Linked DNA regions of Homo sapiens: regions 2, 3, 4 and 5 are each linked to region 1. The links come from fine-mapping of genetic effects on gene expression. A gene starts in region 1. Each other region holds a variant in brackets. All regions are shown on one strand. Distances are from middle to middle. Region 1 holds the start of SRA1 (steroid receptor RNA activator 1). Region 2 holds the start of NDUFA2 (NADH:ubiquinone oxidoreductase subunit A2). Region 3 holds the start of TMCO6 (transmembrane and coiled-coil domains 6). Region 4 overlaps ANKHD1-EIF4EBP3 (ANKHD1-EIF4EBP3 readthrough). Region 5 overlaps ANKHD1-EIF4EBP3 (ANKHD1-EIF4EBP3 readthrough).

The links. PIP is the estimated chance that this variant, and not a neighbour inherited with it, causes the effect.
Region 2: its variant is fine-mapped to the expression of SRA1 in monocytes after R848 (Quach 2016, PIP 0.95).
Region 3: its variant is fine-mapped to the expression of SRA1 in whole blood (TOPMed, PIP above 0.99).
Region 4: its variant is fine-mapped to the expression of SRA1 in whole blood (TOPMed, PIP above 0.99).
Region 5: its variant is fine-mapped to the expression of SRA1 in whole blood (INTERVAL, PIP 0.90).

The regions. Positions count from the first base shown.
Region 1 is chr5:140,554,361-140,559,360 of GRCh38, reverse strand. SRA1 (steroid receptor RNA activator 1) reads left to right here and starts at 1,888. Exons shown (of 5, transcript NM_001035235.4): 1 at 1,888-1,933; 2 at 2,089-2,214. The coding sequence starts at 1,909. It overlaps APBB3 (amyloid beta precursor protein binding family B member 3), which reads left to right. Exons shown (of 13, transcript NM_133173.3): 13 at 540-1,093. The coding sequence ends at 776. RefSeq lists enhancers at 1,459-1,518, 1,609-1,968, 1,834-2,655 and a silencer at 3,179-3,328.
Region 2 is chr5:140,644,281-140,650,813 of GRCh38, reverse strand. TMCO6 (transmembrane and coiled-coil domains 6) reads right to left here. Exons shown (of 12, transcript NM_018502.5): 11 at 6,074-6,241; 12 at 5,410-5,829. The coding sequence ends at 5,716. It overlaps NDUFA2 (NADH:ubiquinone oxidoreductase subunit A2), which reads left to right and starts at 3,184. Exons shown (of 3, transcript NM_002488.5): 1 at 3,184-3,331; 2 at 3,452-3,558; 3 at 5,136-5,529. The coding sequence starts at 3,231. The coding sequence ends at 5,227. It overlaps IK (IK cytokine), which reads right to left and starts at 2,985. Exons shown (of 20, transcript NM_006083.4): 1 at 2,890-2,985; 2 at 2,277-2,343. The coding sequence starts at 2,905. It overlaps MIR3655 (microRNA 3655), which reads right to left and starts at 2,970; the gene lies at 2,888-2,970. RefSeq lists enhancers at 2,911-3,446, 3,187-3,606. The variant C/ACACC (reference allele first, on the strand shown) is at 2,807.
Region 3 is chr5:140,636,069-140,642,601 of GRCh38, reverse strand. It overlaps TMCO6 (transmembrane and coiled-coil domains 6), which reads right to left and starts at 3,151. Exons shown (of 12, transcript NM_018502.5): 1 at 2,990-3,151; 2 at 2,751-2,863; 3 at 822-937; 4 at 549-732; 5 at 183-287; 6 at 1-16. The coding sequence starts at 3,074. RefSeq lists a silencer at 3,090-3,339. The variant C/T (reference allele first, on the strand shown) is at 3,952.
Region 4 is chr5:140,531,728-140,538,260 of GRCh38, reverse strand. ANKHD1-EIF4EBP3 (ANKHD1-EIF4EBP3 readthrough) reads right to left here. Exons shown (of 36, transcript NM_020690.6): 30 at 2,723-2,899; 31 at 672-872; 32 at 1-175. ANKHD1 (ankyrin repeat and KH domain containing 1) reads right to left here. Exons shown (of 34, transcript NM_017747.3): 30 at 2,723-2,899; 31 at 672-872; 32 at 1-175. Among named protein-coding and RNA genes, the nearest start is that of EIF4EBP3, 13 kb to the left of the region's middle. RefSeq lists an enhancer at 4,642-4,701. The variant T/C (reference allele first, on the strand shown) is at 3,088.
Region 5 is chr5:140,492,712-140,499,244 of GRCh38, reverse strand. ANKHD1-EIF4EBP3 (ANKHD1-EIF4EBP3 readthrough) reads right to left here. Exons shown (of 36, transcript NM_020690.6): 15 at 1,967-2,725. It overlaps ANKHD1 (ankyrin repeat and KH domain containing 1), which reads right to left. Exons shown (of 34, transcript NM_017747.3): 15 at 1,967-2,725. Among named protein-coding and RNA genes, the nearest start is that of EIF4EBP3, 52 kb to the left of the region's middle. The variant C/A (reference allele first, on the strand shown) is at 3,610.

The sequences.
Region 1 (5,000 bases):
AGGACACCTTTGAGCTGTTCAGATGAGATGACTGGGAGCAGTTGCATTGGGGCTGGAGTTTGAGTTGTACACCTTTACCCTTGACTAGGGAATCTGCTTTGCCAGGGACTAGTCCCCACCAGTGAGAGATGGAAAAGAGGCAACATAGTGGTACATGTAATTAAGAGTTTAGGCTCTGCAATCAGAGAGAACTAGGTTTGAATGCCATTTCTGCCTTTCTCTGGCTGTGTGACCTTGGGCAAGTCATATACTCTCTGAATCTCAATTTCCTCTTTTGCAAAACAGGGATAATAACCCCTCATAAATAACTGAATTATACAAAGCACTTAGCAGTGTCCAGCCTGCCCTCCTTAAGTGTCTGATACATGTTTTATGATTTTGTTATTGAGCTACCTGGGAATGCTCTAGAAACTCCACATGTGGCTGACTACCAACCTTGTTATCAGACAGAAGCTTTGGCCAGTTCCCTGTCCTGCAGAAGCTTTCAGGGAGTCTAGAGGCAGAAAGTAGCTGGATCCTCACATTCCCCTTCTCCCTAGGTTCAGTACCAGAAGTGTCTTGTGGCCTCTGCAGCTCGAGGCAAGGCCTGGGGTGCCCAGGCCCGTGCCCGCCTGCGGCTCAAGCGGACCAGCTCCATGGATTCCCCAGGAGGTCCCCTGCCCCTCCCCCTGCTCAAAGGAGGGGTTGGCGGTGCAGGGGCAACCCCTCGAAAGCGGGGTGTCTTCTCTTTTCTTGATGCCTTCCGGCTGAAACCCTCTCTGCTCCATATGCCCTAAACTTATCTGGGAAGGCTGGGGAAGTAGGCTCTGGGTCCATGCCTAACTCTGTACCGTTTTATTCCTCAAGGCCTATAGCCTGTCACTCCTTGAAGCCTTCTCTGCCTGTCCCTCCGATCCTTGTCCACCGTCTATTTATTGCCCAATTTATTGTTTATACGGATGACTGGGAGGCACTGCACCACAACGTAGGACCCTGGCTCCCCTTTCCTTGGGTCCTTGTGTTCCTTGCCCCTGTCCAACCCTGGACAGTTGGCTCTACCTCAGTAACACTTTATAGCAAAATCAGTGCAAATAAAAATCCCTCAGTGACCTCACTGGATGTGAGTATATTGGGCCTGGGACAGGGCTGGGGGCTAACACCCTGTGTGAGATGAGTGTCTTTGTGTCTGTGCTTGATGTTGGTGGCTCTCTGTAGTCACATGACAGCATGGGTGTGATGGAGATCTGACTTCATTCAACAAACATATTTTCTAAGGAGTTCCCTGTGCCAGGCACTAAGCTGGGCACTGGGAATGTAATAAAATAGTCAAGGTCCCACCTTCTAAGACTGTCCGACAGGGAAACGAACAAGAGTCAAATAAGGCAGAAGATGTGATGTAATACACCTACGAAATCTCAGAGGGTTGTAGGGTCGTGGGAGCTCAAGTGAGACACTTAACCTGGCCTGAGACATTCCAGAAGGCCTCCTGAAGAACTGACATCTGAACTGAGAACTGAAGGAAGATGAGTACTAGTGAGGCTACCGGACGTGAATGTGGAGATTGTGCAGGGCAATGCAAGAGGAGGCTGTAGAAGTCAACCTGGCTAGATCACAGCGGGGTGTATGTGGGGCAGGAGCTTCTTTGTTTGAATTTGCTCCTGAGAGGATGAGGCCTCCTAGAGCACTGGCTCCTGGACAGCAACCTCCTTTGGTGCCTTGTGACCAGGGCCCTGATGGTTCATTAGATGGAGCCTTCGAGTCTTAGGGAGTTGCCGCAGGGTCCCCACAGCGGCTCCCGACGGTTGTGAACCAGCATCCATCCTCCACGGATTCCGGCAACCCGCCTGGCCCTGGACGTGTCTCAACTGGCCCGCGTGAGGGGCCGCCCCGGAAATGACGCGCTGCCCCGCTGGCCAAGCGGAAGTGGAGATGGCGGAGCTGTACGTGAAGCCGGGTGAGCGCAGCCGGCGGGCTAGGGCACTAGGTTGTCGCCCCGGCCTAGGCTGGGGGCGGTTGCGGCGCTTAGTATGGACCCTCTGTCTCCCCCAGCCCCAGTATAAGCTAACAGTGGAGTTCCGGGCTCGCTTCACACATCCCTCGCCTCCGCAGGCAACAAGGAACGCGGCTGGAACGACCCGCCGCAGTTCTCATACGGGCTGCAGACCCAGGCCGGCGGACCCAGGCGCTCGCTGCTTACCAAGAGGGTCGCCGCACCCCAGGATGGATCCCCCAGAGGTGCGTGGGGCCCCTGTGCTCGGAGACAGACGGAGAATGGGGGGGGGGGGGTGTAAGGCATAAGCCTGTTTGGAAGGCTTTTTTCTCTCCCCGAGGGCTCCTTAAGGAGAGAAGTTTTGGGGCTCCAGTAAGGGTCTCAGAGCAGGTGCTTTTCCGAGCCCCTTCTCTGCTGCTCAGGTTAATAAATGGTGTATTGATTTAAAAAGACTATTTTTTCATCCTAGATGATCTTATCCAGACCTGTGGCTTTTAATATAGTTTTAATCCTGAAGTTATTTTTCTTTGTTAACCTATACCTCTTGCCAGAACCGTATAGTGGCATATTCATTTGTCCATTCTGTCTTCACTTAGGTATATGATAATCGTCAGACTTCACAGTTTTTCATTCATTTAATCACTGTTATTTACTGAGCACTTCTATAAGTCAGGCACTGTTTGAGGGCGAACTAGACAGCAGTGAGAAAAAAAAAAAAAAGATCTCTGCTTTCAGGAAGTCCACGTTGCAGCACTGGAGATGGGCTGAAAGATGAAATAGTGGTGAGGGTGCTACAGAAAATAAGCGGTGATGTAATATGACTGGGTAACGAGGTGTCTGAGGGGCTGACATTTAAGCCACACAAAGATCATGTACAAAAGCATTCCAAGCAAAAGAAACAGCTGCAAAAGGAATAAGTTTGGCCAATTCAGAGACTGATGAAATACAGAGTGGCTGGCTACAGCATAGTGGGCTTTGTAAAGCAGGATGAGGAATTTGTATTTTAATCTACATAAAGTTAGAAGCCATTGAAAAGTTTAAAGTAGAGGAGAGCCACCTTTCCCCCCGAGAATTTTCCAAGCCATTAAATGGGCTGTGCCGTGGCCCCCATAAAGGGGCTCAGGTTTGGTTCTTTCAGTGGCCCTCCATTCTCCACACCCTTTTTGCTGTAGAAGAATGATACAAGGCTTGGTTTCTTAAACTCAGCAGTATTGATAGGTTGTGGCCAGATAATTCTTTGTGAGGGACTTTCCTGTGTCTTATGTTAATCAGCAACTCTGACTTCTACCCAAAAGATGTCAGTAGCATCCACCCAGTTGTGATAGCCAAAAGTGTTTCCAGACATTTGCCCTGTGGGCACTATCTTCCTAGCTTGAGAACCAGGGACTGATTTACATTTTGGAAAGATCACTGTGTCTGCTGTGTGAAAACAAGATTTTAGGGAAGTGGAAAGACAAATTACAGCTATTATGGTAATATAGGCAAGATTTAATGATTTGCATAAGGGTGGGAGTCAGGGTGGTAGGAGTTGGATGGATATGAGATGGAGAAGGTCAGTAGGAATGAGTAGATTAGGAAGAATCCATATAACTGAATTTTTTTGCTTGATATAGGAAGACTGGGGATGGTGGTTTTGGGGAGGGGGAGTTTTTTTGGGGGGCCATGTGAAGTTTAGGCTGTTACTTTTGGGGAATGTTCTAGGCCAGAATTAGAGAAATAAGTCACCATTACAAGGATGGTATTTGATGTCATGGGCTTGAATATGGCCAGGGACAGAGCCGTAGGGCACTCTAGCATTTCAAGGTTGAGAAGGAATCAGCAAAGGAGATTGGGAAATGGCCAAAGAAGAAAAAAGGAGAGGCCAGGCGCAGTGAGTCACGGCTGTAATCCCAGCACATGGGGAGGCCAAGGTGGGCAGATCACCTGAGATCAGAAGTTCAAGACCAGCCTGGCCAACATGGCGAAACGCTGTCTCTACTAAAAATACAAAAATTAGCTGGGCCTGTAATACCAGCTACTTGGGAGGGTGAGACAGGAGAATCGCTTGAACCTGGGAGGCGGAGGTTGCAGTGAGCCGACATCGCACCACTGCACTCCAGCCTGGGCGACAGAGTGATATTCTGTGACAAAACCAAAATAAAAAAAGAAAATAGGAGAGCGTAAAGACATGAATCAATAGTAATGAATGCTGCTGAGACATCAAGATAGAGACAAGGGGCCAGGCGCAGTGGCTCACGCCTGTAATTCCAGCACTTTGGAGGCCAAGGCGGGTGGATCACGAGGTCAGGAGTTCAAGACCAGCCTGGCCAACGTGGTAAAACCCTGTCTCTACTAAAAATACAAAAAATAGCCAGGTGTAGTGGCGGGCACCTGAAATCCCAGCTACTCGGGAGGCTGAGGCAGGAGAATCATTTGAACCTGGGAGGTGGAGCCTGCAGTGAGCCGAGATCGCACCATTGCACTCCAGCCTGGGACTCCATCTCAATAAAAAAAAAAAGAGCGACAAGGAACCAGTAGATTTGACAAACATAGCAGTCACTCGTGATCATAACAAGAGCAAGTCTCTGCAGTAGTGAGAACAGAAACAGCTGGAATGGGCTGAGGAGAGAATGTGAAAAGTAGAGAGAGTGACTATAAAGAGCTCACTCAAATGCTGCTGCAGAGATAAGAAATGGGACAGTATCTGAAAATGGAACATGAAGTAAGGGAGTGTTTTGATAGTAATATACTAGAGCATGTTTGTACACTAACGGGATGATTCAGTAGAGAGGGGGAGCTGATGATGCAAGAGAAGATAGTTACAGTAGGGAAGTCTAGAGAAGACAAGAGAGGCTAGGATGCAGAGTACAGCTGGTAAGATGGCTTTTGATAGGAGCAGGAACCTTTTCATCTATTACAAGAGGAAGAAAAGTGGCCACAGATGCAGGTGGGTTAGGAGGAATGGTGGTGGGAAGATGAGAGAGTTCTGTTTAATGACCTCTACTTTTCAATGAAACATTAGGCAGTGTCAGAAGAAGATAGCAAGGAAAGG
Region 2 (6,533 bases), 91 kb before region 1:
CGAGGTCAGGAGTTCAAGACCAGCATGGCCAACATGGTGATATCCCATCTCTACTAAAAATACAAAAAAATTAGCTGGGCGTTGTGGTGGGCGCCTGTAATCCTAGCTACTCAGGAGGCTGAGGCAGGAAAATCGCTTGAACCTGGGAGGCGGAGTTTGCAGTGAGCCGAGATCTAGGTATTACACTCCAGCCTGGGCAAAAAGAGCAAGACTCTGTCTCAAAAAAATAAAAAAAAGAAAAGAATCAGTCTGAAACAGACTAAGCGTTTATTAGCTGGAGACTGACTAAACTATGATGGTGTTTCCCAAAGAGGGAAAGACAGCACTAATGGTACAAGAGATTATTTTAATTGGTACACTAACAAAGACTCCTCTCTTGATCAAATTAAAGTCAGACTCCTTTAAAGCTCTCTTCTGACTAGGGCTCTTCCTTGGCCTGCTGACCTCAGTTTTAAAAAGGAATCCTAAGTCAGTTCACAGAAAGTTTTCCCACTCTTGATATCCAATCCAACTTGATATCTAATCAAGTTCCTCTTCTCCCCAAGGAAGACTTTATTGAAGACTACTGTAACAAGAGTCAAGACCATTGTAATAGAGTAGAGAGACTGAACTTAATTCCGAATACAACAGGGACAAGTGAGAATTTATAGAAAATTACTAAAAGCAACTTGGTTAGGTATGGGGGTGGAGCGGTGGTTGATTTCTTTGTTAAAACTGTGCTCAGCAGGCCACGGATGAGTCCTGCTGAAAAATGGGACTCTTTGGGGAACCTGACTAAAGTTTAGCCAAGGAGGGAATGCTTGTCACTGCTCTGAAAGATAATCTCAGAAACACTGAGCAGGGTTTAAAAAGAAGCAAGTTGCAAAAATGATATATACAGCATAATATCATTTAACTCAAATATTTTAAATCACAAAGCAATGTTGTGTTTTCCTCAGATATGCATGTATGTGTATAAATGCATTTAAAAAAGAGTAGGAGGGCCAGGCGCAGTGGCTCACGCCTGTAATCCCAGCACTTTGGGCCGCCGAGACGGGCAGATCATTTGAGGTCAGGAGTTCAAGACCAGCCTGGCCAACATAGCGAAACCCTGTCTCTACTAATACAAAAATTAGCCAAGCATGGTGGGGCATGCCTGTAATCCCAGCTACTGGGGAAACTGAGGCAGAAGAATTGCTTGAGCCCAGGAGGCAAAGGTTGCTGTGAGCAGAAATAATGCCATTGAACTCCAGCCTGGGCAACGGGAGGAAAAGATATGCCAAAAAAGGTAACTGTGGTTACTTCTAAGAAAAGGACTGAGGCTGGGCACGGTGGCTCACGCCTGTAATGCCAGCACTTTAGGAGGCTGAGGCGGGTGGATCACTTCAGGCCAGGAGTTCAAGACCAGCCTGACGAACACAGTGAAACCCTGTCTCTACTAAAAATACAAAAAAAAAAATCAGTCGTGCATGGTGGCACATGCCTGTAGTCCCAGCTACTTGGGAGGCTGAGGCAGGAGAACCGCTTGAACTCAGGAGGCAGAGGTTGCAGTGAGCCAAGATTGCATCACTGCACTCCAGCCTGGGTAACAGTGAGACTCCGTCTCAAAAAAAAAAAAAAAGAAAGAAAAGAAAAGAAAAGAAAAAAAAAAAGAAATGGACTGGAATTGGGGATGTTATCAAAGATGATTTTATCGGGGGCCAGGCACGGTGGCTCACGCCTGTACTCCCACCACTTTGGGAGGCAGAGGCGGGTGGATCACCTGAAGTCGGGATTTCAAGACCAGCCTGATCAACATGGAGAAACCCCATCTCTACTAAAAATACAAAATTAGCCGGGCGTAGTGGAACATGCCTGTAATCCCAGCTACTCGGAAGGCTGAGGCAGGAGAATTGCTTGAACCCGGGAGGCGGAGGTTGTGGTGAGCCGAGATCGCACCACTGCATTCCAGCCTGAGCAACAAGAGCGAAACTCAGTCTCAAAAAAAATAAAAAGATGATTTTACCCTTATTTCCTATGTTTTAATTTGCTATTGGAAGAAGTAATTCCTATATAATGTGTAATTACACAACACGTATAAAAAAAAAAAAAAACTTAACACCTTTCCTGCAGGAATTTCCCTTCTAATACCCTTATGCACTTGGCCTGATCCAGTTAAGGCTCACAGAGATAAAGGGCCAGCGGGTATAATTTTTTACCATCCTTGATGACAAGACATTCAGAATTCTTTCACCATCACCACCACTTTTCTATTCATTGCCCAACTCATTTCCATGGTCCTAGCACAAAATACTCACTGGTGGAAGGAGTGAGGATCATCCACATCGTGGCCATCGGGGGCCAAAGGGTTGGAGAACGGCTCACCTGACAAAAAAAATTGACGTTAATTTAATCAGTCTCTTACGTGTCAGATCCTATGCAAAAATTTGAGATATAGTAGTGAACAATACAGAACAAAAGTTAGAACAGCGACAGTGTCAACACAATGTAATAAGTGCTGAAATAGGAAACTACAAGAAGCTGTGGGAGCACAAAGCAGAGGACCCTAATCCTGCGCTGGAGGATCAGAGAAGACTTCCGGAAGATCACGTCTAAAATACTACGTAAAAGATAAATACGCGCAACCCAGGATTAAGTATGGGGACAGGACTGGGGGAAAGCGATCCACGCACAAAAGCCGCCCATCATCACTTGGAGTAGGAGTGAGGACTGGGGACGGAGTTTGGAGCTGTCGGCCTCACTTAGGACCCTGTGGCTTCTCCGGGCTCAAGCGTCACACATACATACATACACACACACACACACACACACACACACACACACACAC[C/ACACC]CGGCTTAAGCTCAGAAGCTACAATAATGCGCCAAGTGCCCCAAGTGCCATGGGGAAGAAATAACGGATGGCCTGAGCCTTACTATCTCGCTCCGGCATTTTGTTATCGTTCTTTCGCTGTCACCAACAATCGAGTCTCCAACAGCAACACCGCAGCGACAAGCTCTTTCCCACAGTGCACCTCAGAATCAACCCACACTGCTTTGCGTTCGCAGCCTTTCCGCTTCCTGTTTTTCCCTCCGACCAACCCCGAGCGCAAAGAAATTGACCTCGCAGCGGTCCTACAATACTTTTATATCATTGGCCAAGCTTTACCCCGCCCCTGCCTCATGCAGCCTATGGGCTAGGCTTTAGGGTCCGCGGTTGGTCAGACCGGAGCACTTGGCCTGAAGACCTGGAATTGGCGACTTCGATATTAACAAGGATGGCGGCGGCCGCAGCAAGTCGAGGAGTCGGGGCAAAGCTGGGCCTGCGTGAGATTCGCATCCACTTATGTCAGCGCTCGCCCGGCAGCCAGGGCGTCAGGTGAGGCGCGGCGTGGTGAGGCGGGCGGGCTTCGGGACGCCAGGGTCACGACCTCGACCTCCCTGAAGTTGAGGGAAGCCCCCGCCCACAGCACGCGCGGCGCTCTCTCCGGCCCCGCAGGGACTTCATTGAGAAACGCTACGTGGAGCTGAAGAAGGCGAATCCCGACCTACCCATCCTAATCCGCGAATGCTCCGATGTGCAGCCCAAGCTCTGGGCCCGCTACGGTGAGTGCGGGACGCCAGGGGTCTGGGGCTCCGGTAGGGGAACAAGGGTTTGAGAAGAGAAGGGACCGCCCAAGGTCGTGCAGAAACCCGTGGAGAAACTAGAACTCGGACTTTAGCCTTGCTGTTGATCTTGTTTCCATGAAGAAATTTATATTCGCAGGGTTATATGATGCGTTGTATTCCGGGCAACATAAGTATGCAGGCTGACCGAATCCTGCGTAGGGACCAGGAGCTGACGTTTTTGTAGTTAAGAATGGGCTTCAGACAGGAGAGAAGTTAGTCAATATAGTTTCTCCAAATAACGTGTAGCCAGTGTCAGTCCAGGTAGTGTGTGAGAATCTCAGTAATTTTGCACATAGAGCTGGGCCCTGTGCTGAGTGCTTCCCTGCCTAACTCATTTAATCTTCATTAGTTAGGAGGAAGCGTGTTCTTCTTTTCTCACTGTAGAGATTAGAAAACGGAATCAAAACTTTGTTTTGCACTATTGTTAAACTCTAGCTGCAACTTTAGATGCAGCTAGAGTTTAACAGGATTGAGCCTTTACATTTATTCCCCTTCCTAGAATGCACTTACCCCTCTAAGACTGGCATGGCAATGTATTGCAAAATGAAATTTTCCTATCATGTTGCCTAACACATTGTAGGTATGCAATAAATGTTTATACATACTGAATAACAGGATTTTAATCACAGCTTTTAACTATATGGTGCCCTGGGAATGACGGGAGGAGGTGGAGGAGAGTGACCACCTTAAGCAGATTGGTTCTCAGAGTAGATATCTGTGAGACACAGTAGACATTAGACATGCACTAATAATTGGAGAAGGAAAAAAGCTTCTCCTTCCAAAAGCCAGTAGACTACAGGAGGAGATAGACACGAGTAACTTTAGTGTATTGTGCTGGGTATTATGTTAGATAGCCTATGGGAGCCTAGAGAATGGGTACCCAGCTGGGTGCGGTGGTTCACGCCTGTAATCCCAGCACTTTGGGAGGCTGAAGCAGGTGGATCACCTGAGGTCAGGAGTTCAAGACCAGCCTGGCCAACATGGTAAAACCCCGTCTCTACTAAACATACAAAAATTAGCCGGGTGTGGTGGCGGGCACCTGTAATCCCAGCTACTCAGGAGGCTGAGGCAGGAGAATTGCTTGAACCCAGGAGGTGGAGGTTGCAGTGAGTGGAGATCGTGCCACCACACTCCAGCCTGGGTGACAGAGCGAGACTCCGTCTCAAAAAAAAAAAAAAAAAAAGAGAGAGAATGGGCTCCCAGCTGAGGCTGGACCCATGCAATACATTGCTCACCGTAGTTAATAATAAATGCCTACAGTGCCCCCGAAAGCTTCCCTGAAACAACCCATTGCGGCCATCCAGAATCAGCCAAAATTCTATTTGGACTTGGGCTTCCTAGATGTGTTTGAGACCTATTGTATTAATTCTAGGCATACCAAATGTATTTTGATCATATCTCTTTAATACTCTTCCTGTCTTAACAAGACTAAGATAAAGACAAAGATCTTTTATTTTACTTTGGTAGCCTCCAGGGTGCAGAATAGTTAAAGACACCTCCCTCTCTCTCTTCAGCATTTGGCCAAGAGACGAATGTCCCTTTGAACAACTTCAGTGCTGATCAGGTAACCAGAGCCCTGGAGAACGTTCTAAGTGGTAAAGCCTGAAGCCTCCACTGAGGATTAAGAGCAACAGCCCCAGAGCCTGGGCTCTGCTGGACTTAGTATAATGTGAAAAAAATGTGTTCTCCTATTCCTCATAAAGCTTGTGCTGTAAAATACTTTCTCAGGGTGTTCTTGTCCTCATCTACCCTCTACCCCTTACTGTGCAACCACTGAGGCAAAGTAGCTTAATATAAAAATAAAACTTTATTCTGTCTCATCAAAAGCTACCAGCTGCTGAAGCAAACATGAAGGGTGGCGGGGGGGCAGGGATTCTAGGGCCCCAGAGTAAGTAGACCACACTGAGTCCCTTTTGGTCCTCCTGCCTGGATAGTGCTGAGTGGAAGGGGAGGAGCTGGGACCCAAAGGTCTTGGCTTAGGTGTGGGAGCAGAGAACATGAGACCTCATTATGGTCCTAAATCTCCAAAGGCTCTACTGGACAAACAAGCTTGATGTTAAGAGAGAGGGGAATGAGTGACATTGAGAAACAAGATCACCCTTGAAGAGCTGTCTGCTGGAGAGCATACACACGATCCTGGAGCTGGGCCTCTTCCTGATGCCTTTCCAGGGCTTGCAGCCCTGACTGCTGCAGGAAGACCTGAACAGCCTAGGGGCAGGGAAGAAAATTCAACACACCTGGTCTCTGTGTCCTAAGACTCAATTCCCACAGCCTCATGGGTCAGCCTACTCCAGAGGGTGCATTCCCCAACAAGAGGATGAAGTTTCTGACATGGAACCTATATAGGTTAGCCAGGCCCAGAGAAACAACTATAGTTAGGACTGGATGGGAAGGGAGCCACTGTGTGGCTTCAGAACAGGGGTGACTGAGGATGTGGGCCAGAAACCTATACCTCTGGCTGATACAGGAACAGCAGATGCAGCAGCTCCAAACTCTGGCCTACTACTTCAGTGTCAGAAAAGGCTAGTGTGTGCAGCAAGGCGGGAAGCAGGGGCCCTGGCCACAGCCGCTGGCAGTAAGCAGGACCCTTTTCTGCAACATTGCACAGAACTGTGAGCACCTGCAGATAGACACATATATAGTCTACAAAGAATGAAACACAAAGATCATAACAATAGCTAAAATATATGACATGGTGACCACATGCCCAGGCACCATGCCAAGCTCTTCTACATACATGTTCTCATACTCCTACAACTACCCTATGATGCAAGATTATCCTCAGTTATAAGTGAGGAGACTGAAGCTTAAGGTGGTTAGTTGATTTGTCCAAGGATAAATAATCCAGTTTAAGGGACACACACCTAGATTGGTTGGGCCCTGAGGCCACACACCACCACCTGCTGGCTCTC
Region 3 (6,533 bases), 82 kb before region 1:
CAGCCACATGGGGGGACTGGAAGTAGACAGGGTAAGGATCTGACTGGAAGCTGGGTCATCAGGTCTTCAGAGACTTTCAGCCCCTTGGCACAGGGCAGAGGCTGGAGCTACCTAACCAAAGTAGATGGAGCATGTGGGGAGGAGCAAAGGAAGGGTTGCCCAGGGAGGAAGAAAGGAGTCACCTGGATGCAGGCAGCCAAGGCTGGAACAATGCCCTGTGGCAGGAGCTGCCTTCTCACAGCCTCACTCTCCACGATCAGGTTACCCAGTGTATACAGACACAGCTCCTGAGAACAGGCAACAAAAGCACTGGGCTTGGCCTGTTTCATGCCAGGCTGCGTGTGGGGAGATGGGGAGGGGAGGTGATGGGGACGCTGGAGCAGCTATCCTTGCGGCTCACAAGAGGGTGGGGAGATGATGGGTGTAGCCATGGCTGTAGGCATAAGGGCAAACATGTTTTCTTCCTCCTACCTGCCAGCTCAAACTGGTCCCAAAAGCACAATTTTAAAATCTAAACCAAGAACAAGATAGGAAGGGACAGGGCTTACTATGAAGTCTGAGCTGTGACTGGAGAGGTAGGTGAGGAGGTAAGAAGTGGCTGGCAGGCAGGCCTCAGCAACAGTGGACTGCTCGGAGTGAGAGAGCTCATGCAGGCACCGAGCCGCCTCAAGCTGCAGCAGGGCCTGGTTGCTGGTCAGGAGCCCGACCAGGGTCCGCATGCTGCCCTCCAGCCTATGTGAGTGAGTACCAGAGCCCTGCTTAGCTTGTGGTCCATCCCTCAGAGCCCCAACTCCTCCCTCCACCACACCATCCACACTGACCGGATGAAGGTTTGCTGTGTTTCAGGGTGCTGCAAGCCTCGACGAAGGCTGACCAGAGCCCCCTCTCTCTCCTTTTCCTCTGTCCCCCGCTGGGCTTGCCGCAGGAACTGCTGCACCTGGAGTTCAGGGCAGGGAAAGGAGAACACACGGTTCACAGAAAGCAAGTCCTAAGTCTCTCTCTGCCCACTTCACCTGTGAGCCTTCCAATATCACACCTTCAGAACTTGTCATTCACACTAATGCAACTAATAAGCATCTACCTTGCAGTGGAGTGGACAGAGAATCAGAACTGAGTTCTAATACCATACCTGCCACTTACTCCATATGGGACCTGAACCTAAGTTTCCTCACCTGAAAATGAGAATAACAATATCTATCCTGCCTTCATACAGGGTTCTTTCAAGGATATTTAAACCTCTCAGCCTGGCAAAACCTACTCCTCTAGCCATTCTCCCCATGCAACCTACACTCTAACAACAACCAGCCTAACATGAGCTTTTTCTTTTTCTTTTTTTTACATTTCCGAGCTTTTGCACATGCTATTTCTTCTGCCTGGATACCCTCTCCAGCTTCCCACTCTCTTCAGGTTTCTGCTCCTCATTTCCTCTGGGAAGTTAGCTCTTTTTGAGAGACTTAGGAGTTTCTCTTGTTCCTCATGTTTCCTTCCCTTGTGACATCTGTCTTCTTCACCGGGCTGTGAGCACCTCAAAGAAAAGGACTCTATCCTTTCATCTTTGTGTACCTCAGTGACCAGCACAGTGTCCTGGCATAAAGTAAGCATACAATGGAATAGTATGACCTAGGAATAAGTTGATAATATATATGTCAACATGGTATGTACGGTAAACTATGTACGTAAACATAATACAAATACAGGGGATACTCAATGCTTACTGAATAAATCCTTTCATTCACTCATTCAATAAACACTGAGTACTTAACTATATGCCAGATAATGTGCAGGCAACCGGGTTTTCAATGACAACACAGGATCTAGGTTTTCCTGCAATTAAAGTCTAGTTGGAGAAATAACAATAGACAAACCATTAGATAATGATTAATATTCTACAAGAAACAAGTAGGTGGCCGGGCACAGTGGCTCACGCCTGTAATCCCAGCACTTTGGGAGGCCAAGGCGGGTGGATCATGAGGCCAGGTGTTCCAGACCAGCCTGACAAACATGATGAAACCCCGCCTCTACTTAAAATACAAAAATTAGTGGTGGCGCGCGCCTGTAATCCCTGCTACTCGGGAGGCTGAGGCAGGAGAATCGCTTGAACCCGGGAGGCGGATGTTGCAGTGAGCCGAGATCATGCCACTGCACTCCAGCCTGGCGACAGAGCGAGAGTCTCAAAAAAAAAAAAAGAAAAGAAAAGAAAAAAAATAGGCTCTCAAGACAGAATACCAAAAGAAACGAACGTTAGACGTAGCGAATGCCAAGGGCTTGAGACACAAATCCGATATATCGTTGCAGGAACTAAAAAGAGGACGGTGGGTAGGATGAGAAAACTGATAAAATTTGAGTTAGGAAGAGGCTAGACCATGCTATGCTTTGCAAGGCACAGGAAAGATTTTGGTCTCCACGTGTTTTTAAAGGACGTAGTGACGGTGACAAGCATAGATGCAGGGTGACCTTTTAGGAGACTGCAGTAGTATCCAGAGAGGAGGTGGTGGTGGCAGCTTCGATGGTGAGGCATGTAAAGACTCCAAAGCTCTTCAGGAGGTAAACAACTAGGACTTGATGATGGATCGATATGGGGTTGTGGGTCAAAGAGTTGTGCAGGATGATTCCCCTGTTTCTGGCTTGACCCACTGGATGCGTGGAAGTGTAGAGTGGATTGCGTTCAGGTTTGGGGCAGACCTCGAGTACTCCCGGGAGTCTGGCGCCAGCGGGCGTGGACTCCAGCGCACCCTACCTTGCCCCCTCACCTCGGTTTCCCCGAGGATCGCAGCCACACATCCCTCTCCAGCTTCCTCTGGGGCGTCGTTTCTCAGCAGCCTCTTGCTGACCAGCTGCTGCTCCCTCCGCGCCTTCCGCAGTGCTGGGGGCAGAGGAGCCGGCTGAGCGTGGGAAGGACGACCACAACCCAGAACCCGCGGCTCCGAGCCTGGGGTCTCAACTTATCCCCGACCGCCATATACCCCCGCGCTCCCTCGGCCGCCCACACCTGCCTCCCGCTCCCGCCGGCGGCGCCGTAGCTCCTCCACCCCGCAGACCGTGGGCCTGAGGCGGCCCTGCCGTCGGCTCCACATGGTGGAGCAGGAGGAGGAAAGCCGAAGGAAACAGCAGCCACAACGCTCCCAGGGGCGTAGAAGATGGCACCGACTGCGCAGCCTCAGCACAGGGCGGGAACAGGCGGGGAGGGCGCGAGGAGCGGGGTGGGTGCTGGGTGAGGGCGGGGCTCGGCGAGTGGACGCCTCGCGGGGACGGTGGGCGGGGCGAGGGCTAGAGACGCTGCACCACTAGACCAGAGCCAGAGGCGTCGCTCTGCCTCTGATTGATTTCCTGTCTTACCAATTCTAGGAAAAAAAGTCTCTCATCCCTGACCTCGAGTGACCCAAGCCAGCAGTGTCACAATCTACTCAGCAAACACAACTTCCCCACCCACAATACGCTCTAGATGAAAGTTCAAAACAATCCCGAACTGCGGGAAGCGCCATGATGCCGTTTCACTATTAATGCGGATCCCACTGATGAGAGCTGCCAAAAACGCTTGAAGCGTCATTGAATTGTCAACGAAAAGAGTCCAACTCTGTAAAATATTTGAAGAGACTTATTCTGAGCCAAATATGAGTGACCATGGCCCTTGACACAGCCCTCAGGAGGTCCTGAGAACATGTGCCCAAGGTGGTCCGGTACAGCTTGGTTTTACATATTTTAGGGAGATATGAGACTTCAGTTCATTCAAGAAATACACTGGTTGGGCCGGGCCTGGTGGCTCATGCCTGTAATCCCAGCACTTTGGGAGGCCTGGGCGGGTGGATCAGCTGAGGTCAGGAATTTGAGACCAGCCTGGCCAACATGGTGAAACCCCATCTTTACTAAAAATACAAAAATTAGCCGGGAGTAGTGGTGGGTGCCTGTAATCCCAGCTACTCGGGAGCCTGAGGCAGGAGAATCGTTTGAACC[C/T]GGGAGGCGGAGATTGCAGTGGGCCGAGATCGCGCCCCATTGCCTGGGGTACAAGAGCGAAACTCCGTCTCAAAAAAAAAAAAAAGAAAGAAAGAAAGAAAGAAATCTGGGATATGATGAGGTTTCTCTTCAAATAATTAGATCAATCTTTTATTCTTTAATTCATAGTACTCCCCCCCACACACACTTTTGTTTTCCTTTTTCTCCTTTTTGCCTTCGTTAGATGCCGAGGCACGCCACAGTACAAGACGTTATCAGTACCAGACGTTATCAGTACCAGCTCACATTCCTTTCATTATTTGGAAAGAGGACTAACTTTCTAGTTCATTACAGGCACCCCTTCCCCTTTCCTCTCCACTTTCTTTTACGTGCCCACATTACCTAAAAAAATCAAATGTTTAGCCAACCGGGATTAGTTCAGATTGTATGACCCGACCCCGGCCAATGGGGAAAGGGTACAGGGGCAGGACTTGCGTCAGGAATAAAGGCTCTCGTGCCCCTTTGTTCAGGTGTGCTCTCATGGCGACTGGCCAAGCAGACACCCCTCTGAGCAGAAGTAAAATTGCTTTGCTAATAATCCTTTGTTCGAGTGTTCAATTTCCCTTAGGATTTTGAGCGTTATTCCTAAGAGAAAGAAAAGAAAGAAAGGAAGGAAGAAAGAAAGAAAGAAAGAAAGGGAGAAAAGAAAGAAAGAAAAGAAAAGAGGAAAGGAGGAAGGGAAGAGAGGGGAGGGGGAAAGAGAGAAAGACATTGGTTTGTGGGACAACAGAAAGGCGGGACAACTCGAAGTGGGGCGGTGGGGGGCTTCCAGCTTATAGGTAGATTTTAAATTTTTCTGGTTGACAATTGGTTGAGTTTCTCTAAAGACCTGAAATCAATAGAAAGGAATGTCTGGGTTAAGATAAAGGATTGTGGAGACCCAAGTTCTTATTTGCAGAGGAAACCTTCAAATCCTAGGCTTCAGAGAGAATGGGTTGTAAAATGTTTCTTATCAAACTTAAAGTCTGTGTTGATGTTAACGGTAGAGAGGTATAATGAGGCACGTTCAACCCCTACTTCCCATCATGGCCTGAAACGGTCACTCGGGTTTAATTTTGAAAGAGCCCTGGCTGAGGAGGAAGTCCATTCAGATGGTTGTGGGGGGCGGCCTTAGAATTTTATTTTTGCTTTACAGAATGTTCACCACAATGACCATTATTCTCATTTTATATGTGATGAAAATGAGAAAGATATCATTATTTCACTTCTCTGCATAAAACTGAATTCCCATAATTTTTAGGATAAAATCTTTCACCAAATGTGGAGTGCCACTAGTCTACTAGGCACTGAGGAAACACTAGTGAATAAAAAACCGTGTTCCTCACATTCAAAATTGGAATTGTGGCCGACTTAGCCCTACATGGTCTAACCCCTGCATACCTCTCCAATCTGGACTCACCTCTTCTGGGACCTTCTCTTTGTCAACAAGCCCTGTTCTTTTTCTCCTCCACCCTACTCCCACTCTTGGGGGAGGCTCTCGCACAAGCTGTTTTCTCTGCCTGCATCCTTCCCTTTTCTTTCTACCAGCATCCTTCCCTCAACACCATTCTCAACATGTCAAGTCCAGTGTCACCTACTCAGAACCATTGTACCAATGACCCAGCTTCTTCACAACCCTTTTCACAGCTATCATTAAGTTATAGTGTAATTATTTGATGTTGTCTCCTCCCAGACCCCCTTGGCAGCTCCAGAAGATTAGGGTCCCGGTGGCACCTAAGAATTTTTACAGGAAACCTCTAATTTTTAAAAAGCCATATAACTTAGGCAAAGGTTCAATTAAGTACAAATCTAGGAAAAAGGTTATTCTTAAAACCAATTTCTTTCCCTTGAACTTAATTCTACCCCTTGGAGTTAATCAATGAAGTCTGCAATCTCTTCCACAAAACAGCATGTTAAAATATCTACAGGCCATCATTCCATCCTCCATATCTTCTCTCCCAGTATCCATCCAGCCCCTGGAGAGCCATTTACTGAGTACCTGCTGTGCACCATGCTCTGGCCAGGGATAGGGCCTGGATCTTGAGCCCTTCCTCATGCAACTGTCTGGCTTCTTTTTTTAATTTTTTAATTAAAAAAAATTTATTTTCTTATTTCCCCAAGAAAAACTTTTTTATTTTTATTTTATTTATTTATTTTTTTTTTTGAGCCAGGGTCTTGCTCGGTTGCCCACGCTGCAGTGCAGTAGTGCAATCATGGCTTATCACAGCCTGGAACTCAGCCTTAAATGATCCTTTCAGCTTGGCCTCCCAAAGTGCTAGAATTACTGGCATGAGCCACTGCACCTAACCCAGGCTAGCTTCTAAGACCCACACTTGGCCCAGCAAGGTGGCTCATGCCTATAATCCCAGCACTTTGGGAGATGGAGGCAGGTGGATCACCTGAGGTCAGGAGTTCGAGACCAGCATGACCAACATGGTGAAACCCCGTCTCTACTAAAAATGCAAAATTAACCAGGTGTGGTGGCACGTGCTTGTAATCCCAGCTACTCAGGAGACTGAGGCAGGAGACTCGCTTGAACCCAGGAGGTGGAGGTTGCGATGAGC
Region 4 (6,533 bases), 22 kb after region 1:
TTAGAAAAATCCACAAAACCACTTGCCATAGGCTGATGAAAAATGTTAGAGGGGGCTACCATTCCAGAATCATCTCTCTCCATTGGCTGATGTTGGGAGAATGTGCTTGGGTCTGATAATTGTTGATGCATTGGATGGTTCCCCATCACAGATTGCGACCAACCTGATAAGCCTTCTGGAAAGAATAATTGAAAACAAAGTTTTAAATTTATTTGGATAAAACAACAAAACATTACCATTGTTATTACCAAACATGACCAAATGTTACTGAAATCTTTCCTCTGAAGAGCTCAAAGCGTATTTATCACAGTCTTGCTAGCCAAAAAAAACCAGTTCCTGAAAAACTAGGTAAAGTCCTCTGAATACTCCACTTTACCCTGTCTTTTAAAAGATTAAGTACTCTCTGAAAGAACTCAAATGATTATTTAAGAGAGAAAGGACACACACTTTGAATCTTTTGTTTCTGATTAACTCTATGTATTACCTCAACCAATATTCCAGACTCTGAAATTGGACTGAACTCCTCAAAGATATAAACACCCTTCCCTAATTGAGTGTTAAACATAGGAACTAAGTTTTTTTTGTTTGTTTTTTCTAAGGAACTAAGTTTTAATGGCAAACCTACAGCTTACTTAAGATATCCCTCCAGAGAGAGAGCAAGGCAATTGTACCTGACACAGCATTGACACCAAATGACCAGATTCCACTGTGTCCAACGGGAGCGACAAAACTGGTCCCCGCCGGGGCTTGTGCAACAGACCCTCCTTGCCGAATTCGGGCCAGTCTCTCTGTTCCAATTGGGGGAGGTATCTTTCGATCTTGACTGGCACTGACTCCTTTTGGTTGGCCCAACGTTGGTGGGGCAGAAGTGGCTGAAAGAGGTGAAGATGATCCCGAAGAAACAGATGGAATAGGAGAGTCACCTGGTGGCAAAATATTTCTCTATTGTTTTATTACATATAAAAAACTATAAGAATATGAGAAACCTTGTTGGAAAGATCTATTCCACAACATAAGTTCTGTAAAGAAAATTTTCATTTTAAAAGAACATTCAAATAAAACATAATTTCTATAGACATTATCCTACACGATTTCTGCCTATAATAAGTATACAACAGTCTAAAAAATGTTTTCCCAATTGAACTAAACAATGCTAGAAAGGAAGCAGGCCACATTTGTTTTTATTCTAGCTCTAAATAATCTGCTCAAAACATTACTGTCACTTTTTTTTTTTTTTTTGAGACGGAATTCCGCTCTTGTTGCCCAGGCTGGAGTACAATGGCGTGATCTTGGCTCACTGCAACCTTTGCCTTCTGGGTTCAAGCGATTCTCCTGCCTCAGCCTCCCGGGTAGCTAGGATTACAGGCATGCACCACCTCACCTGGTAATTTTGTATTTTTAGTAGAGACGGGTTTCTCCATGTTGGTCAGGCTGGTCTCAAACTCCCAACCTCAGGTGATCTGCCCGTCTCAGCCTCCCAAAGTGCTGGGATTACAGACGTGAGCCACCACGCCCAGCCACATTTGAAAATTAACTAAAATGTGGCAATATTTGCACAGTACCTAGCATATTTTCTAGAAAACATCTGGTGACCCTCTATACTTGTTAGTCTTTTCTTTTTTCCCTTTCTACAGCCCTTTTTGTTTCTATAAGGAAATAAGGTCAAATGTTAGCAAAGCATTGTACGATTTTGATTCACAGCTTTGTTTCTTAATGGAACTCTTGGGTGATTTGGGTAATTTTCCTTGTCAAAAAAGCCAATACTCACTGACTACCTCATGATGCTCATTAAAATAAAATAAAAATCCAATTCCGTTCAATTCCACATACTTCATCTGTTCTAAACATTGAAATAAATAGAACAAAGGGGTCAGGCAGGTGGCTCACGCCTGTAATCCCAGCACTTTGGGAGGCTGAGGCAGGTGGACCACCCAAGGTTAGGAGTTTGAGACCAGCCTGGCCAACATGGTGAAACCCTGTCTCTACTAAACATATAAAAATTAGCCAGGCGTGGTGGCAGGCACCTGTAATCCCAGCTGCTCGGAAGGCTGAGGCAGGAGAATCGCTTGAGCCTGGGAGGCAGAAGGTGGAGTGAACCAAGATCGTGCCACTGCACTCCAGCCAGGGCAACAGAGCGAGACACTCTATCTCAATCAATCAATCAATCAATCAATAGAACAAAGGAATATTTTAACTTATAAAAGGCAATAGTTTCATAAAATGTAAAAATACATGAGAAATCACACCAAACTGACCATATACAAAAATTCAACTTCTTTCCAGATTTAAGAAATAATTTTACAACACTGCTTCCAAAGGGTCCTTTTGTAAAACTACTTGCGGTACTTTTTTTTTTTTTTTTTTTTTTAATAGAGACAGGGTCTTGCTGTTGCCCAGGCTGGTCTCCAACTGCTGGGCTCAAGCGATCCTCTTGCCTAGGCCTCCCAAAGTGCTGGGATTACAGGTGTCAGCCACTGCACCCAGCCTAGTACCTCTTTTCTTGATCCAAGTTCTACTGTAAAACATTTTTGGCTTGAAAGAATAATTCTCAAGTTTTCTATGCTAAAAATGACTGACAATTTTTTCACATGACCACAGAACAAACCTTGGGCATCTGTATACCACTTAGTTTACTAAAGTTACAACATGGTGTTGTAACTGAAATAAATGATTTAATAACTTATTCAAAACTCTTTGGGAAGAGTTCCTCCAGGATTCCTACATGAGTTTGAGGCGCTTGTCCAAGGATGGGGAGAAAAATGTTGTCTGTTGAAACTAGGAGTCCCAACAGGAGCTGGCCCTTGCAGGAAAACCCTTGTTCCTGGTATGCCGGAAAAACTTGCCAGAGGAGCAGAAGAGGAAGATGGGGAGCTGCCTGATGGGTCAATGGATGGTAACCCTGAAATAAAACAGGTCCAAGACATCCAATTAGCTAAAACTTTAAAATTGAAAGCCCAAGAAGACTTCCACCAAAGTGAGATAAGCTGTAAAAATAACCAAACAAATAAATAAAAGATAGCATGTGGCTCATTTTCATAGACCACAGCAAAAACAATCCATCTATGTGATACTGTATGGCCAAATCCA[T/C]TTTTTCCTTACAGTCCAGAAGAATATCGCCAAACAGCACTAGATACAGGAAAATGGGCTCAATGTTTAAGAGTGTCAGTCACCTGGAGTAATGTTCTAGATGAATCTCAAAGCTTTTAACTGGAGGGGATATGAAATGGGAGTATGCTGTAACTAAGTAGCACCCAACAATAACTCCTGCATTCCCTTTTGTAGTCAAAGTACAGCTTTTCATCTGTATAACTATAGTCATTTTCTATAGAAGATAAGTAACAAAATCTACCAATGTTTCCTTCCTCACAAAGAGGAAAAGCCTACTACTGAGGATAATTTCAGTATTCTATCTGATAGAAAATATCAACAGTTGCAAACTATTATCAAAGTTTCTATCTAGTTTGTATAAATCTGAACTTAGCCATCTTCTCAAATTCCATTGCTTTCTCTGGAAAATGTATTAGGAAAAGAGGATGAAGGTCTGGAAAAGGATTATGGTTTATTATTTCAGGAAAAAGTAGTTAATATCAACATCGACTGTCAAAATTTCTTTTAAGCAGGTCTTATTTTCAGACTTTGATTTCCCCATCATTTAAAAAAAATGACTTCGAGATGTAATTCACATACCATATAATTCACCCATTTAAAGTATATAATTCATTGGATTTTAGTATACTCACAGGATTGTGCAACCATCACCACAATCAATGTTAGAACATTTTTGTCTCCCTTAAAAGAAACTCCATACTCATTACCTGTCATTCACTGGGTCCTCACCCTCATATTTCCATTTCTTTTTTTTTTTTTTTGAGACGGAGTCTTGCTCTGTCACCCAGGCTGGAGTGCAGTGGCACGATCTCAGCTCACTGCAAGCTCCGCCTCCCGGGTTCATGCCATTCTTCTGCCTCAGCCTCCCAAGTAGCTGGGACTACAGGCATCTGCCATCACGCCCGGCTAATTTTTTGTATTTTTAGTAGAAACGGGGTTTCCCCATGTTGGCCAGGATGGTCTCGATCTCCTGACCTCATGATCCACCCGCCTCGGCCTCCCAAAGTGCTGGGGTTACAGGTGTGAGCCACGGCACCCAGCCTCATATTTCCATTTCTAAGCAATCACTAATCTTTCTGTCTCTATAGATTTGCCTACTCTGGACATGTGGGTAACTTAATGCATTTCCTACTTATTTCAGACTTTCATTATTGTGGTAGGCAACAGTAGGCAATTTATTACTGTGCTTTCCTGACAAAAAAAATTAAATTTTCTAGTGCTAACCAAAGTAGATGTTAGCAAAACCTAGAGGTAGTGAGAATACTGAATGTGGCTTTAAAAAGTCTGTAAGTAGGAAATGAATCATTTCTTTCTTTTTTTATTGAAATGAATCATTTCTATAATAACTTCTTGTTTTTTTTTTTTTTTTTTTTTTTTGAGACAGGGTCTTGCTCTCTCACTCAGGCTAGAGTGCAGCAGTGGTGTGATCATGGCTCACTGCAGCCTCGACCTCTGGGCTCAAGCAATCCTCCTGCCTAGCCCCGCTGAGTAGCTGGGACTACAAGCGTGTACCACCACACTGAGCTAATTTATTTTTATTTATTTATTTTTCTTGAGAGGGTGTCTCGCTCTGTTGCCGAGGCTGGAGTCCAGTGGCGCGATCTCGGCTCACTGCAAGCTCCGCCTCCCGGGTTCACGCCATTCTCCTGCCTCAGCCTCCCAAGTAGCTGCGACCACAGGTGCCTGCGACCACGCCTGGCTAATTTTTTTATATTTTTAGTAGAGATGGGGTTTCACCGTGTTAACCAGGATGGTCTCGATCTCCTGACCTCGTGATCTGCCCGCCTCGGCCTCCCAAAGTGCTGGGATTACAGGCGTGAGCCACCGTGCCCGGTCCCACACTGAGCTAACTTTGAAATTTATTTTTTATCAAGACAGGGTCCCACTATGCTGCCTAGGGTGGTCTCGAACTCCTGGGTTCAAGTGATCCTCCTGACTTGGCCTTCCAAAGTACTCAAATTACAGGTGTGAGCCACCACACCTGGCCACTGTCAATATTTTTACAGTGAAATCTGTCAGTCTTTTGTAAAGATCATGATAGCTTTTTTTTTTTTTGGAGACAGAGTCTTGCTCTATTACCCAGGCTGAGTATAGTGGCACAATCTCAGCTCACTGAAACCTCTGCCTCCCAGGTTCAAGCGATTCACCTGCCTCAGCCTACTGAGTAGCTGGGATTACAGGCACCCACCACCATGCCTGGCTAAATTCGGTATGTTTGGTAGAGACGGGGGTTTCCCCATGTTGGCCAGGCTGGTCTTGAACTCCTGACTTCAAGTGATCCACCCAACTCAGCCTCCCAGCACAGGCGTGAGCCACCATGCCCAGCTAATCATGATAGCTTTTAAAGATCATGATGTGCATTTTGGGGACCTAAATGTAGATGCCACATAAATGTACTTTTTAATAGCTTTACTGAGATTTAATTCACAAACCATACAATTTACTCATTTAAAGTTATACTATTCAGTAGCTTTTTGTATATTCACAGAATTGTGCATTCATGACCACATCAATTTTAGAACATTTCTGTTATCCTAAAAAGAAACTCTGAAGCTGGGCATGGTGGCTCACACCCGCAATCCTATCTCTTTGGGATGCCAAGGTAGAATAATTGCTTGAAGCCCAGGAGGTTGAGGCTGCAGTGAGCCATGATCACGCCACTACACTCCAGCCTGGGCAACAGAGTGAGGCCCTGTCTCAAGAAAAAAAAGAAAAAGAAATTCTGCACCCCTAAGCTATCACCCACCCTCCAATCACCCCTTCATCCTAGGTAACCACTAATCTACTTTCTGTCTCTATGGATTTGCTAATCTGGATGTTTCACATAAATGGAATCATAAAATAAATATCTGGTCTTTTGTGACTGGCTTCTTTCATTTAGTAAAATGTTTTCAAAGTTCATCCATGTTATAGCATGAATCAGTACTTCTTTTTTTTTTTTTTTTTTAAGACAGAGTCTCGCTCTGTCACCAGGCTGGAGTGCAGTGGCGCGATCTCAGCTCACTGCAACCTCCACCTCCTGTGTTCAAGTGATTCCCCTGCCTCGGCCTCCTGAGTAGCTGGGACTACAGGAGTGCACCACCACACCCAGCTAATGTTTTGTATTTTAGTAGAGACAGGGTTTTACCATGTTGGCCAGGCTGGTCTCGAACTTCTGATCTCATGATCCAACCACCTCGGCCTCCCAAAGTGCTGGGATTATAGGCGTGAGCCACCGCGCCTGGCCCTTTATTTCTTTTTATACCAAATACAAAATATTACATTCTATAGATATACCACATTTTGTTTATCTGCTTGTCAGTTAATGAACGTTCGGTTGTTTCTACATTTTGGCTATTATGAATAATGTTGCTATGAACATTGGTGTGCCAGTTTTTCTATAGACATATATCTTCCCTAGGAGTAGAATAATGGGATCATATGAT
Region 5 (6,533 bases), 61 kb after region 1:
TTGACTTAAGAAAATATAATATTTAAATTTAAGACAGGTACATCATCTTGAATAAAGAAAATATAATTACTGCCATATAGTTCAAAACACATAGCCTTCACAAAAATGGAAGTTTTTACATGAAGATAATTTTTGTACCTGTTGGCTGATTTAAAATTTAAAACTTATTAATAAAAGAATATTGTACAATGTGGTAGGTATTAATGTCTAACACAAATTAAATTTTGTTTATATTAATAAAAAGATAATTTCTAAGCCAATTTTCTAAGTTTCATGCAAACTTTGTAAAAGACTAATTTAACAAATACTTCAGTGAAATAAAACTTGATGTTCCTTAACACTTACAAGTTCCTTTTAGAGCTATTTCTACATTCTTTAAAAAAAAAAAAGTTCTAACATAACTGAACTAATCAGTAACACAGATTTCATAACTGCAAACTGTGCACTTAATTAGGAACATTATAATGCTAGTTACAGAACACTACATGTTAAAAATGTTATTCCCAGTTCATCAGTTTCATCATTATTATTCGTAATCATACTTCACATTCTAAAATCTGTTTTTACCCAGATTAAAATTAGAATTCCAAATGAACTACAAGAATTTATTCACAATTTATAACAACTTTCAATGCTAATAATACAAAGTTAATTTGTGTCTACCAACTGAAGATATAAAAACCCAAATTAAAGAACAAAGAGCCTAACTCCTTAAAACATTTCCCAGAATTTTAATTTTCTTTAAGAAAACTAAGACATTCCTCCTCTGCACAATGATACCTATTACATATCAGAGGAGCCTCAAAGGCAATATCACAATTCTATAACCATTGGAAGTCAAACACATGCCCAATAAAATTCCTGATTTCAGTAATCTTATTCCACATTTAAAAAGATTCAGTAAAGATCAGGAAGACTAAAGGCTCACAAAAGAAGAAAGGAAACTGAGATAGCATAATTGGGATGGGAGAAGGGGAGGAGAATATGACAAGAGGCAACAGACAACAGTAAGGAAAAAAATGTTGCAATCAAGAGACAGAGGACTGGCCTGCCTTTGAATATCACTCCAGCTACATCTTAGTTCTTGGTCTTCATCCACTGTCAACAGCCATTCTGGCTGCATTTCTGAATTGGGCTCTCATGGAGGTGATACATTCACCAGCCATCTTTAGGAAGGTAAATGATTAATTGCACTGTTTTCCCACTGCTGCAAGGACAATGAAAGGGAAAGTAAACTTGTGCACCTCATTTCATATCTAGTTGTAATTTTCCACACAACAATAAACAGAAACATATACTTCAAGGTTATCAGGCCTTTTTTTCTGTGTGTGTGTGTGTGTGTGTGTGTGTGTGTGTGTGTGTGTGTGGTGTGGTGTGGTTGTGTGCTTTCATTAAGAAAGTTAATGCAAAAATCCCAATCTTCAAATCATCAAGTGACAATCATTTTAATGCACCTTATCTTCTAACCACAAATATTATAATATGGAATACTTAGTTTTATCTGAACATCCCATTTAATTGGAAATACGTAAGTTGATCTAATAAAATTACAAATTAAAAAAGCTGTGTGATTTTAAATTTCCAGACATGAAAATCAACAGCAGGAAAATTTTAAGTATAATCTTATACGAATACTTCTAAAAGCCTACAAAGAAATTCTACTTTGAGATCTCCTACCCAAGTCACAGCACACAGTGGTTTTGATACCAACGGTTTAAAACAAAGGATTGTGGCAACTTTATTTCTTTGCCTTTGCAATATGACAAAAAAGAAGAGGGGAAAACACACTTTTGTGTGTTAGTGCTATTGAGCATAGTTAATTCACTTCCAAAATACTTCGAGAAATGGGTAATTTTACAAAGTTCTAAAATGGAAACGTACAAAGTCTACGTTTTTGGAGGGGTATATAAAGAAGTTCAGCACACAGATTAAAGAGAAATTATTACAGATATATTTCTTAACCCACCTGCTATCAGGTCATCAAGAGTGTCGGTAAGCGTCTGAGCTGGAGTTGCAACCATTAGTCCATCTGGTTCTTGAACTAACAGCCCCTGATCATGTCCAGTAATAGCAATCTGAGGCTGTCCTACAATCTGCTGATTACCTGATACTTTCTGAAGTTCAAGAGAATTTGTCCCATTAGAACCTAAGTCACTGGAAAAGTTACACTGTGGAGATGATAAAGGCTGGACTGGGACAAAATCAATCTGTTCTGCCGATGGTGGAGACTGTTGCTCATCATCAACATCATTATCTTTAAATAAGATTGTGTCAACCTGAGGTAACTCTGAAAAGTGATCCTCTGGGAGACTACCATCTCCTTCCCCTTCTGGGAAGACTCCTCTATGAGAGCACTGTTGGTGTAGAGACACTGTGTCTTTCTGACCTTTGGTTTCCAAGTATTCTTTGGTAAATTGCTGCTGTGTTTTCATCTGCAACTGCCTTTCCACTTTCTGCAGTTCTTTCAATATTTTCTTCTTCTTCTGGACTTGCTCTTCTCTGTTCTTTTTAAGTTCTTCTATCTTATCTTTGTTCAGAGGTTCACCTTGAATTAACTCCAGTGACTTAAGCTGTGCTTTTTCAATAGCACTAATTCTTTGTCCCAGTTCATTCAGCTTGCCTTCAGTCTCCTCTACTATGCACTCCAAAGGCTGGTATGGGTGAAAAGATGGCAGTAGGTCCTGATCTGCTACCTGGAGGGAACTGGACTTCTGCTTGGATGTACCTAAGCACATGAAAAATGTTTGAAAGAGTGCCATGCTAAAAAAAAAAAAAAAAAAAAAGAAAAGAAAAAAAAAAAAGAAAACCAGCCTCCCCTCCCACACACACGGACCTCCCTCCCAAAACCCTTATAACTAATGTTATAGAATGAATGTTCAGAGTCACACCAGTGTTAGGCAGGTTAAAGCCTATACTCATCTATTTCAAGCAGCACAAACTAGGATGTTGCTAATTCAAAAACTGTGAAGTTTTAAAAATCTACTTTAGGATAGGAGGATTTTGGAAATTAAGTCAGGGGCGGGGAAAAGGAAAACCAAGAGGCAAGAATCTCAAAATTCTGCTGATTAGATTGGACTTTTTAAAGAACACCAAATCTAAAGCAGTATCAAAATAGCGTTGAAAATACCAGAAATGTTAACTGCCCATTTAGAACAATCATTCTTTTAGCAATATCAACTCTGCAAGCAATGCAGAGTTAATGCAAAAGACCAAAACTTACAGATCAAAGTAGGGGATAGTGTTTTTCAGTCAAAATATTTTTCTTCTTATATTGAAATATAATGTGAAATCAGTTTTTTCAAGACATGTCTTTCTAAAATTCTCCATTAAATATACCTTTAACACATCTGTACTGGAACACTGTTAAACTTACTATGCAAAGGACAACTTGCATTTAAATGAACACTTCAAGTAAATTCTGTCTATGAGAGAAACAATAAATGATCCTAGGAGAAAATCAGACTTCCCATTTAGGGTTACTCATGCTGACAGTATATGTTAACAAACAATGGCAATGTATATTATTTTAAGGTTTTAAATTACACTTAAGTTCCTTCCTTCATAACAAATCAGCTGAAAAATAATTATCAATATTAATAATCCTAACAT[C/A]TGGACATGAAATGAAGGACATAAATTTTTTGACGTACAATACCTACTCTGAGGCAAATCTAAGGCTTAATCTTGTTTAGAAGTAGGACTAGGCCAGGCACAGTGGCTCACGCCTGTAATCCTAGCACTTTGGGAGGCAGAGGCAGGCGGATCACAAGGTCAGGAGATCGAGACCATCCTGGCTAACACGGTGAAACCCCGTCTCTACTAAAAATACAAAAAATCAGCCAGGCATGGTGGCGGGTGCCTGTAGTCCCAGCTACTCAGGAGGCTGAGGCAGGAGAATGGCGTGAACCCGGGAGGCGGAGCTTGCAGTGAGCCGAGATTGCGCCACTGCACTCCAGCCTGAGAGAGCGAGACTCCATCTCAAAAAAAAAAAAAAAAAAGTAGGACTATTCAGCAACAAAAAGGAACAAACTACTGATTCATGCTACAACATGAGTAAACCTCAAAAACATTATACTAAGTGAAAGAAGCTAGACACAAAAGACCACACATTGTGTAATTCCACTCATATCAAATCTGCAGAGACAAGGCAAATCTATAGAGACAGGGACAGTAGTGGCTGCCTGAGGTTATAACAGTGAAAATGAGGATCAATTGCAAACAGGCATAAGAGATCTTTTTGGGCAGATGGAGATGGTCTAAAACTAGATAGTGATGATGGTTACACAACTCAGTAAATTTACTAAAACTCATTGCATTGTACATTTAAAACAAGGGAACTTTATGGTATGTAAATTAAACAATAAAGCTGTTTGAGAAAAGCTGGGTAAAAAAGTTATCTATTATTTTGAATTGCAGTCAACATATATGAATAACATAGGTAATTTGGGAATTTTTAAAATAAAATCATCCATTGTATTAAAAATGATTCTCAAGTCCAAAGGAAAAAAGATCATTTAGAGACATGAAATGTTCTGAATTTCAAAGGGGTGACAAAACTACTGAAGAAAAAAAAATTAGAGATTCATCTACTTTTTTGCTAGAATAGAGATCTCAAAACTGCAGGTAGCTCAAACATATGCAACATGTGTCATTACTAAAAAAGTCTAAGTTTTTCACCTACATACTGTCTTTAATAAGGTAAGATGACCACAATTTCAATATCACTGCAATCACTTTCAGAGGCTTAGTTATTCCTTAAATTGCAAAGTACACTGTCTATATTCAATTTATATATATATAATTTTAAGAGATGGGATCTTGCTATGTTGCTCAGCCTGGTCTTGAACTCCTGGCCTAAAGTAATTCTCCAGCCTCAGCCTTCCTCAATTTATATTTCTTTCTGAGTAAAAATGATGGAAAAAGACTTTATTCTTTCAGAGCAAAAGCAATTAGATTTGTGAGCTAATTTTATTATTACTTTCCTAAGACCATATAGGAGTCCCTGTTTTGATTTACAGTATTTGTTTAAAGTGCCTAATGACAATCAACAAGAAAAGGAAGGTAAATGGTCACAAATAGCAATGTACAAATCCACAGCAATAGCAAAGAAATATTCAGTCATGTAATAAATTCAATGACATCACTCGAGTACATTTAGAAGTTCTACAAAGACTGAATGGTCCATGGTCCTTTAAACATCCATTAGTTTCAAAACACCCTTGTATAGCTACTAAGCAATTTGTATTTAAGATTCAGGAAAACTAGGTAAGAGTTCAACACTAACCAGACTGGTTAGTAATTATGTTATGACCCCACTGGACATTCACAGATTTAAAATCTTTATACATAGTATAATCCAAAATAAGAGTAGAATTTTGAGGACAGTAACAGATAGGAATGGCCCTGTCTATCTTGTTAACAAATAATATGCAAGAAGCGTGGAACACAAGATTACTAAGAGTAATTTATGAATAGACAAACTATAAGCCCAGAACGTATGTAGCATTAAAAATGGAAGATGGCAAAAATGATGCATAAAAAGTGGTTCATCTCAAAATAGCCATGGAGTTAGTGGAATTGCCTAAAGACACATCAAAGGACTAACACAAGCTATAACATCAAGAATAAAACAGATTGGTGAAAAACAGATAATGTCGCCTAATTAGTCCTAGAAACTAAAGCAACATCTACAGTTTCTGGGTAGAGATTAAGACAAGTATTCTTTTAGCAACAAAATTTTCAACAGGTAGTAAGTAGTATTATAAGATACCAGAAAATAAAAGGGTTCTATCTCCTTCAAACAGCTTACAGTGTCAGATACAAAGACATCTATTCACTGGTATCAGTGAATGATATCATAAAGTACTATTTAAAAATAAAGGTGGCCGGGTGCGGTGGCTCACACCTGTAATCCCAGCACTTTGGGAGGCCAAGACGGGTGGATCACCTGAGGTTGGGAGTTCTAGACCAGCCTGACCAACATGGAGAAACCCCGTCTCTTCTAAAAATGTAAAATTAGCTAGCCCGGTGTGGTGGCGCATGCTTGTAATCCCAGCTACTCAGAAGGCTGAAGCAAGAGAATCGCTTGAACCCAGGAGGCAGAAGTTGCAGCGAGCTGAGATCGTGCCAATGCACTCCAGCCTGGGCAACAAGACTAAAACTCCGTCTCAAAGAAAGAACCACAGGTAAAGTCGCCATTTCATCTTTTTGGTTTGGTTTCTATCCTATTCCTTTGCCTCTCACTTTCCCTCCATTAACAAAACTAGAAAAAATCTGTATTAGAAGCCATGATGTAGTGACAGCTTAAACATGGCCTTTATTTTTTTATTGGCAGTGAAGGAATGAGGTGGACATGTATTTGCCAAATATTTAGTTTTTTATTGGATTGAGCTTAATCCTATCAATCATTTTTGTGTCTAAAAATAATCAGTGCATTGTACAATGGAAAAATAATGGCCAATGGGAAAAAAACATGATATACAGAAGGATCTAGACTAGATTTCATATTTCCTTACTTGGTTTTGTCTATAAAACTT